3 linked regions of the Homo sapiens genome follow. The protein of the gene in region 3 interacts with the protein of the main gene of each other region in a pairwise test. Each region holds a gene or a part of one and is shown on either strand. Other genes may lie near its edges. The genes, in order: TLR2, HMG20A and HEMGN.

What was found.
Region 1: the proteins of HEMGN (region 3) and TLR2 interact in a two-hybrid assay, tested with the Homo sapiens proteins (one large-scale study listed by BioGRID and IntAct).
Region 2: the proteins of HEMGN (region 3) and HMG20A interact in a two-hybrid assay, tested with the Homo sapiens proteins (one study listed by BioGRID).

The regions. Positions count from the first base shown.
Region 1 is NC_000004.12:153,690,704-153,694,361, reverse strand, and holds part of TLR2 (toll-like receptor 2 precursor), read right to left. Parts: intron 1-3,658. UniProt on the Homo sapiens protein: Cooperates with LY96 to mediate the innate immune response to bacterial lipoproteins and other microbial cell wall components. Cooperates with TLR1 or TLR6 to mediate the innate immune response to bacterial lipoproteins or lipopeptides.
Region 2 is NC_000015.10:77,423,756-77,427,413, reverse strand, and holds part of HMG20A (high mobility group protein 20A), read right to left. Parts: intron 1-3,658. UniProt on the Homo sapiens protein: Plays a role in neuronal differentiation as chromatin-associated protein. Acts as inhibitor of HMG20B. Overcomes the repressive effects of the neuronal silencer REST and induces the activation of neuronal-specific genes.
Region 3 is NC_000009.12:97,928,114-97,931,771, forward strand, and holds part of HEMGN (hemogen), read right to left. Parts: intron 3,109-3,658; coding exon 1,922-3,108; intron 1-1,921. UniProt on the Homo sapiens protein: Regulates the proliferation and differentiation of hematopoietic cells. Overexpression block the TPA-induced megakaryocytic differentiation in the K562 cell model. May also prevent cell apoptosis through the activation of the nuclear factor-kappa B (NF-kB).

The sequences.
Region 1 (3,658 bases), on a different chromosome or scaffold from region 3:
GCAGCACTGTGACATGTTTGTGATGGCCATGACGCCCACACTGAAGGTTGTGGGTTTACTGGAATGAGGGCAAGGAACACCTGGTCCACCCAAGATGGAAAACCACTTAAGGCATTCCTAAGCCACAAACAATAGCATGAGCGATCTGTGCCTTAAGGACGTGTTCCTGCTGCAGATATCTAGCCAGAGCCCATCGCTTTGTTTTGGCCCATCCCTTTGTTTCCTGTAAGGAATACTTTTAGTTAATCTATAATCTACAGAAATAATGCTTATCACCGGCTTGCTGTCAATAAATACGTGGGTAAATCTCTGTTCAGGGCTCTCAGCTCTGAAGGCTGTGAATCCCCTGATTTCCCACTCCACACTCTATGTTTCTGTGTGTGTGTCTTTAATTCCTCTAGCACTGCTGGGTTAGGGTCTCCACGACCGAGCTGGTCTCGGCAAGTGGCGCCCAACGTGGGGACTCAAACCCAGGATGAAGGCTCGCTGGAGCAATGGTTGGAAAACGTGGAACAAAGCTGGAGGATACCCGAGTACTCTTAAGCAATCCCCATGGTGAGTAAGAAGGGGAGCTCGGAAGCATCAGGGTAACAATGGGCAAGTGTGGGCTCTAGCTCATTCCACCTTGGAACCTTTTCACACTAAAGATGAGGAGGAAGGAAAGTATAATGAAGTAACAGAAGAGGTGACAGAGCAGGTTTGTTTGCCAGCTAAAGCTAAAGTGGCAAAGGAGGGAGAGGTTTGTCCCTACCCTTCTGCACCCCCTCATTATTTCGAAGCAAAAGAGTAGCCTGATCCTCCAGATCTTTCTTTTCCAGAGGACACTGGGCAAAAAGTAGTCGCCCCAGTGACTGAGCAGCACCTCGAGCGACCACTCTCAGTTCTATTCAGCCAGGAATTCAGCAAGTTAGAAGAGAGGGTGATATAGAGGCTTAGCAGTTCCCTGTTAGAATATACCCCGTAGATCAACAGGGAAATATTATAGCTACATTTGAGCCTTTTCCTTTTAAATTACTCAAAGAATTTAAACAAGCTATTAATCCATATGGAACAGGTTCTCCTTTTGTAATGGGACTGTTAAAGAAGGTTGCTGTCTCCAGTCAGATGATGCCAGCGGGGATGGTAGGATTACTTCTAGGTAGGTCTAGTTTAAATTTAAAAGGCGTGCAAGTACAAACAGGAGTCATTGATTCAGATTACAAAGGGGAAATTCAAATTGTTATATCTACTTCTGTTCCCTGGAAAGCAGAGCCAGGAGAGCATATAGCACAGCTCCTGATTATGCCATATGTGGAAATGGGGAAAAGTGAAATTAAATGAACAGGAAGATTTGGAAGCACAAATAAACAAGGCAAAGCAGCTTATTGGGTGAATCAAATTACTGATAAACATCCTACTGGTGAAATAACTATTCAGGGAAAGAAATTTAAAAGTTTGGTAGATACAGGAGCGGACATTTCAATCATTTCTGTACAGCACTGGCCATCTGCATGGTCAATTCAACCTGCTCAATTTAACATAGTTGGAGTTGGTAAAGCCCTTAAAGTATATCAAAGTAGTTATATTTTGCATTGTGAAGGGCCCAATGGACAACCTGGGACTATACAAAAAATTATAACTTCTGTACCTATAAATTTATAGGGAAGAGATTTATTACAACAATGGGGATCACAAGTTCTAATTCCAGAATAATTATACAGCCCTCAAAGTCAACATATGATGCATGAAATGGGGTATGTCCCTGGTATGGGACTAGGAAAAAATTTGCAAGCTTTGAAGGAAATGCTTCAAGCGGAAAGACAAAGTTCCCACCAAGGTTTAGGATATCATTTTTGATGGTGGCCATTGTTAAGCCTCCAGAACCTATATACCTTTAAAATGGTTAACAGATAAGCCAATTTGGATAGCACAATGGCTGCTGAGTAAAGAGAAACTGGAGGCTTTAGAGGACTTAGTTGCTGAACAATTAGAAAAAGGACACATAGCTCAACATTTTCCCCTTGGAATTCTCCAGTTTTTGTAATTAAGAAAAAATCAGGTAAATGCAGAATGTTAACTGACTTAAGAGCCATTAATTCAGTTATACAACCTATGGGGACATTGCAGCCGGGACTGCCTTCTTCTGCTATGATTCCAAAAAATTGGCCTTTAATAGTCATAAATTTAAAAGACTGTTTCTTTACTATCCCCTTAGCTGAGCAAGGCTGTGAACTGTTTGCATTTACAATTCCTGCAGTAAAAAACCTGCAGCATACTAAAGCATTTGTATTGGAAAGTGTTGCTACAAGGCATGTGAAACAGTTCAAAAATTTGCCAGACTTATGAAGGGCAAGCAATTGAACCTACTCGTAAAAAATTTTCACAGTGTTACATTATTCATTATATGGATAATATACTTTGTGCTGCCCCCACTCAAGAAATATTACTCCAATGTTATGATCACTTGCAAAACTCGATTTCTCATGCCAGTTTAATTATATAGCTCCTGACAAAATTCAGACTACTACTCCTTACTCCTACTTGGGGACCTTAGTAAATGACACTACCATTGTGCCACAGAAAGTAACTATACGTAGGGATCAATTGAAAACATTAAATGACTTTCAAAAATTACTAGGGGACATTAATCGGATATGACCTGCTCTAGGCATTCCCACCTATGCCCTGAGTAATCTATTTTCTATCCTTAGAGGAGATCCTAGTCTCATTAGCCCTCAGCAATTAACAAAAGAAGCTGAGGCAGAGCTGCAGCTAATCAAAAAGCAAATCCATAAATCTCAAATAAATAGAATAGATCCAAAAAAGACCCTAGATTTGCTAATTTTTCCAACTCAGCATTCACTTACTGGTGTTATTGTATAAGAGCAAGACTTTGTACAGTGGCTTTTTCTTCCACATACTAATTCACAGACTCTAACTCCTTATTTGGATCAAATGGCTACGATGATAAGAAATGGGAGAATTCGGATTGTTAAATTACATGGATATGATCCTGGAAAAATTATTGTCCCTCTCACAAAGGCACAAATACAGCAAGCTTCTATAAATAGTCTTACTTGGCAAACCCATTTAGCTGACTTTGTGGGTATTCTTGATAATCATTTTCCTAAAATGAAATTATTTCAATTTTTGAAATTAACTAATTGGATTCTCCCCAAAATAACTAAATTTAAACCAACTGAAGGTGCTGAGAATGTTTTTACAGATGGGTCTTGTAATGGTAAAGCCTCTTATTCTGGATCAAAAGGTAAAGTTTTTCACACGCCCTATACTTCAGCTCAAAAAGTGGAGCTTTAGCTGTAATTGAGGTATTGACTGCTTTTGATATGCCTATTAATGTGATTTCTGATTCTTCCTATGTGGTTCATTCCATACAATTAATTGAAAATGCTCAGTTATGACTTCATACAGATGAACAACTGATGACTTTATTTACCCAATTGCAAACAGCATTTAGGAGTAGAATGCACCCTTTTTACATCACTCACATTAGGGCTCATACACCTCTTCCAGGACCTTTAACTGAAGGGAATCAAATGGCTGATCGCCTAGTTGCTACTGCAATATCTAATGCTAGACACTTTCACAATTTAACCCATGTTAATGCCTCTGGTCTCAAATGCAGATATAACAGTACCTGGAAAGAAGCTAAAGCTAT
Region 2 (3,658 bases), on a different chromosome or scaffold from region 3:
GAACTACCCATGCTTGTAGAACCATTAATCACACTCATAAGATTTTATCTTCAGAAAAAAAGTCAAATAAGGAAAATAGCTATAGTTTTATTTAATAGTGCCTGGCACATAAAAGGCACTCAAATATTTCTTCAAATGAATACCTTTATTTGTACTGACTTCTCCAAATCACTGCCCTTGGTTCCTTCTCATTAAGATTTATCTATTTTTATTACCTGAGGAGAGCTTTAGAATCAAATTCTAACATCTTTGTCTAGTCTCTATTCTCCCATCTTCCCCAGTAACTTTGTTTTGATTGCTACTAGACTCCTTACCTTAGAATACTCCCACTCTTTAAACTCAGCTGACCGTAACACAGAAACCAAAAAGACCATATACCACATCCTTGACCTAATCAAGAAGAAATCTGAAGCTTCCTTCAAGGTCATAAGATGTTTTTCTCCTTTGTTAATACCTCTGTAGTCTAAGTATTTACCAAAATCCCTGCTACATTAAGACAAAAACCCAGAAGCTATCCTCATATCCATCCTCACCTGATCCTTAACATACCTTTAGCCCTGTACCTAGCTGCTTATATTTCTCTCTAGGATCTGAGAAAGAATGATCATTTCCTTGCTTTCACACCTCTTGCTTCTTTCTTCTGGCTCCATTCAAAATTCTCTATTCTTCAAGTCTAAGTATCTCTCTCTTTTAGATATAATTCACATACCATAAAACTGACCCCTTTAGTGTATATTTCAGGATTTTTTTTGTACAGTTGACCCTTGAACAACATGGGTTGAACTGCATGAGTCTACTTATATGCTGATTTTCTTCTGCCTCCACCACTTGAGACAGTAAGACCAACCTTTCCTCTTCCTCCTTCTCAGCCTACTCAATGTGAAGATGACAAGGATGAATACCTTTATGATAATCCACTTCCACTTAACGAATAATAAATAGTAAACATATTTTTTCTTCCTTATCATTTTCTTAGTAACATTTTCTTTCTCTAGCTTATTGTAAGAATACAGTACATAGTACATGTAACATATAAAACATGTGTTAATCAACTATTTATGCTATTGGTAAGGCTTCCAGTCAGCAGTAAGCTATTTACGTAGTTAACTTTTTGGGGAGTCAGAAGTTATACATGGATTTTTGACAACACAGGGGTTAGCACCCCGAACCCCCTCATTGTTCAGGTGTCAACTGTATATTAGTATACAAGATATTTTAGTATATAAGGTTATGCAACCACCACCACTATCTAATTCTGGCACATTTTCATCACTTCCAAAGGAAACTCCATACTAGCAGTCACTCCCATTCCCATCCACTAATGTACTTTCTGTCTCTATTAGTTTTGCCTAATCTAGACATCTTAAATAAATGGAATCACATAATAGGTTGCCTTTTGTATGTGACTTCTTTCACTTTAATATTTTCAAGTTTTATCCATGTTACAGCAGGTATTGCTACTTTGTTTCTCTTTGTTGCTGAATAATATTCCATTGTATGGCTATATCGCATTTTGTTTAGTCATCCAATAATTAATGGACATTTGAGTTTGCCTTTTACAAATAAGGCTGCTACAAATATTTGTGTGCAAGTTTTTGTGTGAACATGTTTTAAGTTCTCTTGGATATATACCTAGGAGTGGAAATACAAGTTAAGTGTCCAAATATTTGATATAAAAATCTATTTGGTTTCTGAGTTCAGGTAGCAGAGGGTATCTCTCACAATGCAAACAATTCTATATTAAGCTCTCCATGCCATCCCTACTCAAACACCTACCATCTTCAAAGTCTGCAGATATTAGTAACAATTTACTTTTTTCCAATTAAATTGAGGAGCAGAGATCAGTTCTTACAGCTCCAGTTATATAGGAGGTGCTTAATATATGCTTATCTGACACCCTAAGAAGCTCCCAAATGAGAGAATGATGACTTACTATTCACTCTTTCATTTTATAGATATTTGAGTGTCTAATGTATGATAGCCATTGTGCTGATGCTGGGCATAATTGTGGACAAAAGTTATTGATCAGTTTTGTCATACTCCAAGAGCCAGCTCACGTCCACAAATATTTACTGAATACCTATGATGTGAATGGTCTTGTGCCAGGTATGACAGCACAGAGTGGAATAAGACCTAGTCTGCAGCCTTTTAGGGAAGGCATAAACTCTACCTACAACAACGCAATAAAAACAAACAAGAGGAGCACTGGACAGTAAGTGCTGTAAGAAAGGTATAATGCTCTGGAGAGTTAATGGACAGAACGTGTACAGTTTGGGAGAGTGTAGAAGAGGATGGATATCAGAAAATATTTCTTAAATGTGGTACTTGAGAAACGACCTCAAAGAAAGTGGCATTTTGATAGATGGGGATTCCTAGGAAAAAAGAGTGTTTCAGGCAGAAAATAGCATGAGCAAAAAAAAATATTAATGCTGGGTGCAGTACAGATTTTTTTCCCCCCAGAGGCGATCCCGTTTGGATGTGTAGATGAATAATGTGAGGTATGATCATAGTGTGAAAGGTCATTTTTGGTTTTCGTATTTAAATAAGTTTAGGAGAATGAGTTGAAAGTCTGCCTGTAACAATTCAAATTACCTTAGTGATTTGTGCCAAGATTAAGATTCCTTTTCTTGAAACTTTTCTATTTTGTATATCTTCTAATCATGGAAATTAGTGATTTCTCCTTCCCACAAGGAAAAAAAATTAAATCTTGACAACTGTGTGAGCATGCTGATAGGGGGACAAGGCTGAAGCTCAGTCAGTCTACCACTGCATCCCATACTGTGGGGAAAATGTAAAGCTTAAAACAGACATGTGGGCAAATCACAATAGCCAGAGTAGCAGAAGCAAGATTGGGGGTAAGATAATTGCATTAATGAAGCTTCTGGCACCAGGCATTGGACCAGGAGATTTACATACAACATTCTGATTCCACCAAACAACCCCATTTGGATTTAGGAAAACTGAGGCTTAGGGAGGTCAAATAAATTGCTCATGGTTACCAAGCTAGTAAGCTCAGCCAGTAAAATGCAGAGACCAGTGCTGAATTTGGGCCTATCTGATCCCATATTTTCCCCACTGTTCACTCTCATTTGTTTTCACAATACAAAAGAAGCTAGAATGGTAGGAAAATGATACATGTATCAATGAAAGGGACTGCATATTTAACACAGGGGCTTCTATGGTCTGGAGAAAAATTAGGCTGAAACATTCAAATCTGGGTTTAGAATGGCTTAGAGATTAAGACCAGGAGAGATCAAGTTTAGGGCTGCTTCTTTACCCAGTCTGAACAACGATCATAACATAGATCTTATTTAGGAATACCAAGGGAGCAAAATTCTAGTTTTAATTTGTAAATTAGAGAGTAAACTACAGTAGAATATGAATATTTGGCCGTATTTACTGTATTCAAAGTCCTGAGAACAGTGACTGGCATATAGTAGACACTCTAAACTTTTGCTTAAATAATGAAAAGTCACGTAAAGGGTATTCTCATTTGAATACCTGTGAAGGCTATGAAATAGAGACAGCAAAGCAGTAAGGTGAAAAACCATTCAGGTTCTTAAGATACTTTCTTTAATCCTCAACCCTACGGCAAAAACAACAACAAAAACAAACCACCACCAAAACGACAAACAAGGAAAGCAACAGTTGCAAAACA
Region 3 (3,658 bases):
CCTCCCGGGTTCACGCCATTCTCCTGCTTCAGCCTCCCGAGTAGCTGGGACTACAGGCGCCCGCCACCGCGCCCGGCTAATTTTTTGTAATTTTAGTAGAGACGGGGTTTCATCGTGTTAGCCAGAATGGTCTCGATCTCCTGACCTCGTGATCCGCCCACCTCGGCCTCCCAACGTGCTGGGATTACAGGCGTGAGCCACCGCGCCCGGCCGATCAAGTGTATTTTTTAACCTAGCAGACAGACAAGGATTTTTAAAATGTCATAATGTACAGTGCTGACAAGGGTGTGGGGAAAAGGCACCTGTCTCGTGTGAATTGCTACCACATTTCTGGAGGCTAGTCTGACTGACTGTATATTCAAACTTTAAATTTGGGTACCGTTTGGCCCAACAATTTGATTTCTAGGGGTTGATTCAAAGGAAATAATCAGACAAACTTCAGCCTCCAGTGCCTCCATTTCCTTATATTTAGAATGGGAGTATTATTTATCCAGTAGAGCTTTTAACATTGAATAAAATAAACCACATAAAATATTTAATATGGTGTCTGGCACATAGAAAAGTACCAGATAAATGTTAACTAAATAAATGTTATTCCCAATGATGTTCATTGAACATTGTTGTAATAGTAAAACTTGGCAGTAACCTAAGTGTTCATCCTTATAGAGACTGGTTGAATATACATATAGCACAGTACTATGCAGTTGTTACAAAAGACATCATAAAGATGGCTGCAATACATATTGTAAATGAAAACAAAAACAAGTTACAGGATAGGATGGGTACTGTCTCATTTGTTGAAACAAAACAACCTTAACATTGGGAACTGAAGATAGAAGATGGTATTATAGGGGACTTTTACTTTACTTGATATTCACTTACATATTGCTTTATTATAATGAACACTTACTACTTTTATAATCAGGAAAAATAGATATTCCCATTTATTTGGTCAAACAAAGCCAAAAATAAAATAAGCGTTAATTAATTGACCATATCGACCTTGCTGGGTTTAGAATGAAGCAGTTAGGAATCAGGACGCTGTGTTGGTTAGAGCTGCTTCTCCAGCAGGGTACTCCTGTCAGTGCACGTACTGCTTCACATGCCTGCTTTTGCTGCAATGTATTTCTTTAAAGTAGTTCTTCAAAACTGGTATTACTTGGAAACCAACTAGCACCATGTTTTTGTTGCACTCATCTTTTAGGATAAAGAGCAAGTAAACTACTAAAGGGATTTCTTTAGAAATCAGTTTCCTGGGGATAACTATGGTCTGATAGACTCAGTCCATTTCTTATACTGTCTACAGTATTGTACAAAGAGAGCTGAAGTTCTCAGTTATGTCTCTGAGGCAAGTGAAATTAAAGAAAGGTTGCATTATTTTCAAATTCCTATACTTAGGAAAAAGTTTTTCAGGAACAAATCTTGAAATAGAAAGGGTTTTTGGTAAACCTGATAAATCCTACAAGAATGAATTCCCTAGTAACAGGATTATATTTTACAGCTTTTATCTCCCTCAGTACTTCGTACTATGAATTTACCTGCTTTCCATTTATCAGGCAAATTAAATTTCCTAGAAAAACTTCATTCATCAAGCTTTCTTGTTAATGTAGACTTAATTTTTAAAAATATTTTGCAATAATTCATCCTATATTGGGTTCATTTCACTGACTATAGCATCTCATAATGGATGGATAGTATGAATAAGTACTTAATGTACATGCTTGCATTTTCAATTTTTTTAACTCTTTGAAATATGCCAAGACAGACGTTGGTTGCATGAAAATATTGTTCACTTAAAACTAGTCAATGAAATTCACAGTATCCATTGAAATAACAGGGAATACCCAGGATTGTCAGAGAAAGTTGTAAATCACTACTCTGGGGGAGATGTACCTACCTTGGTGCTATAAACAGCCCTTACCTTGAGGAAAAGTATAAGCATCTTTAGCATCTTCCTGGTGTGCTTTAGGATCCTGGCCTTGGGGCCCACCTGTTTCTTGGTGTGGTTCTGGAAAGCATTCTTTAGGCACATCCTTATTTTTATATGTCTCAGTAGAGAGGTCTTCAGGCCCCGGTGTTTCTTGGTATATTTCAGGTGAATATTCTTCAAGCTGGGATGTTTCTTGGTATATTTCAGGTGAATATTCTTCAAGCCCAGGTATTTCTTGATACGTTTCAGGTGAATATTTTTCAGACCCAGGAGTTTCTTGGTTTATTTCAATTGAATAGTCTTCAGAATGAGGTGTTTCTTGGATTGTTTTATGAGAGGGGGCTTTAGGCACAATAATTTCGTTACATGTTTTATGAGGAAGGTATTTAGGTTCAGCTGATTCTTGGTGTGTTTTTGTAGAAAGGTCTTTAGGCTCAGCTATTTCTTGTATTTTAGGAAAAAGGCCTTCTGTCTCAGCTATTCCTTGATCTGTTTCATTGTATTCCTCTGGTTCTGCTGGATTTTGGTCTGTGTCAAGAATATAGCCTTTAGGCACATCTGGTTTTGGATATGCTTGAAGAGAGCATCCTGCCAGATCAGCTGTGTCTTCAGATGTTGGACAAGGAAGGATTTTGGGTACAGCAGCTTCTTGGCACATTTTAGGAGCCAGATCTTCTCGTTTAGCCATATCTTGGTACATTTTGAAAGGATGGTCTTGAATTACAGATATTACTTGGCATGTGTTAGGAGAGTTGTCTTCAGGTTCCTTCATGTCTTGGCATATTTTGGAAGAATTGTCTTGAAGTACAGATATTTCTTGGTACATTTTAGGAGAGAGGTCTTCAGGTTCAGACACATGTTGGCATGTTTCAGAAGAATGGTTTTGTACTGCTATTTCTTGGTACTCAGAAAAATTCTCCTGATATATGTTACTTTCTTGACATATTTCAGAAAAGTGTTCCTCAGGCACAACTTTTTGCGGGGAGGCTACTGAAGGAAATACTTTGGTTATGCTCCCAGGTGGCTCAGTTTTTTTCTCTATAGGTGCCAGTGCTTTCTCCACTATTTCCTTTTCTATCTGTGGCTGAGGCTCCACCTTCAATTCTGTGTTTTGTTGTCTCTTTCTGCCTCTTCGATTTCCTTTTCCTGTTCTCTGCTGCTTGCGTTTTTTCTGTTCTCTGCAGAAAGAACAGAATTAGTGTCAGCAGTGGTACTACAGAATTCAAATAAATGCTTGTAATAACAGTGCCAGGTCCCCCACTGCCTCATTGCACAAGTATCATGAACTAGTCACTTAATCTCTCTGGGCCTCAATCTCCTTGTTTGTAAAATGAAGGAGCAGCTCTAGATGTTCTCAATTCTTAGGAGAGGGAATGTTTCTCCAGGACTTCGTGGCATTGATACCATGCTTACCAGGAGCCTTCTTGGTGAGGGTAGTGCATGCGCGTATGCGTGCGTGCGTGTGTTATAGCATATTCTTAAAGTTTTGTTATGGAAAATAAATAATTCTCATTACAAATTAATAGAGTGGCATTCTGGTTTATACACTAGTCTCTTTGCATTTAGTCTTTGTGTGTTACTTCCCTACCCCTGAGTAAACTCATACAAATCGAGTTTCTAGACCTGGCACAGCTCCTCGTCTGTGCAGCCTGCAGGTGGATGCTGTATATGGCTTGATTATCAAATACATTATTTTGTGTAAAGAATTCTAAGTTGCTACAGTATATA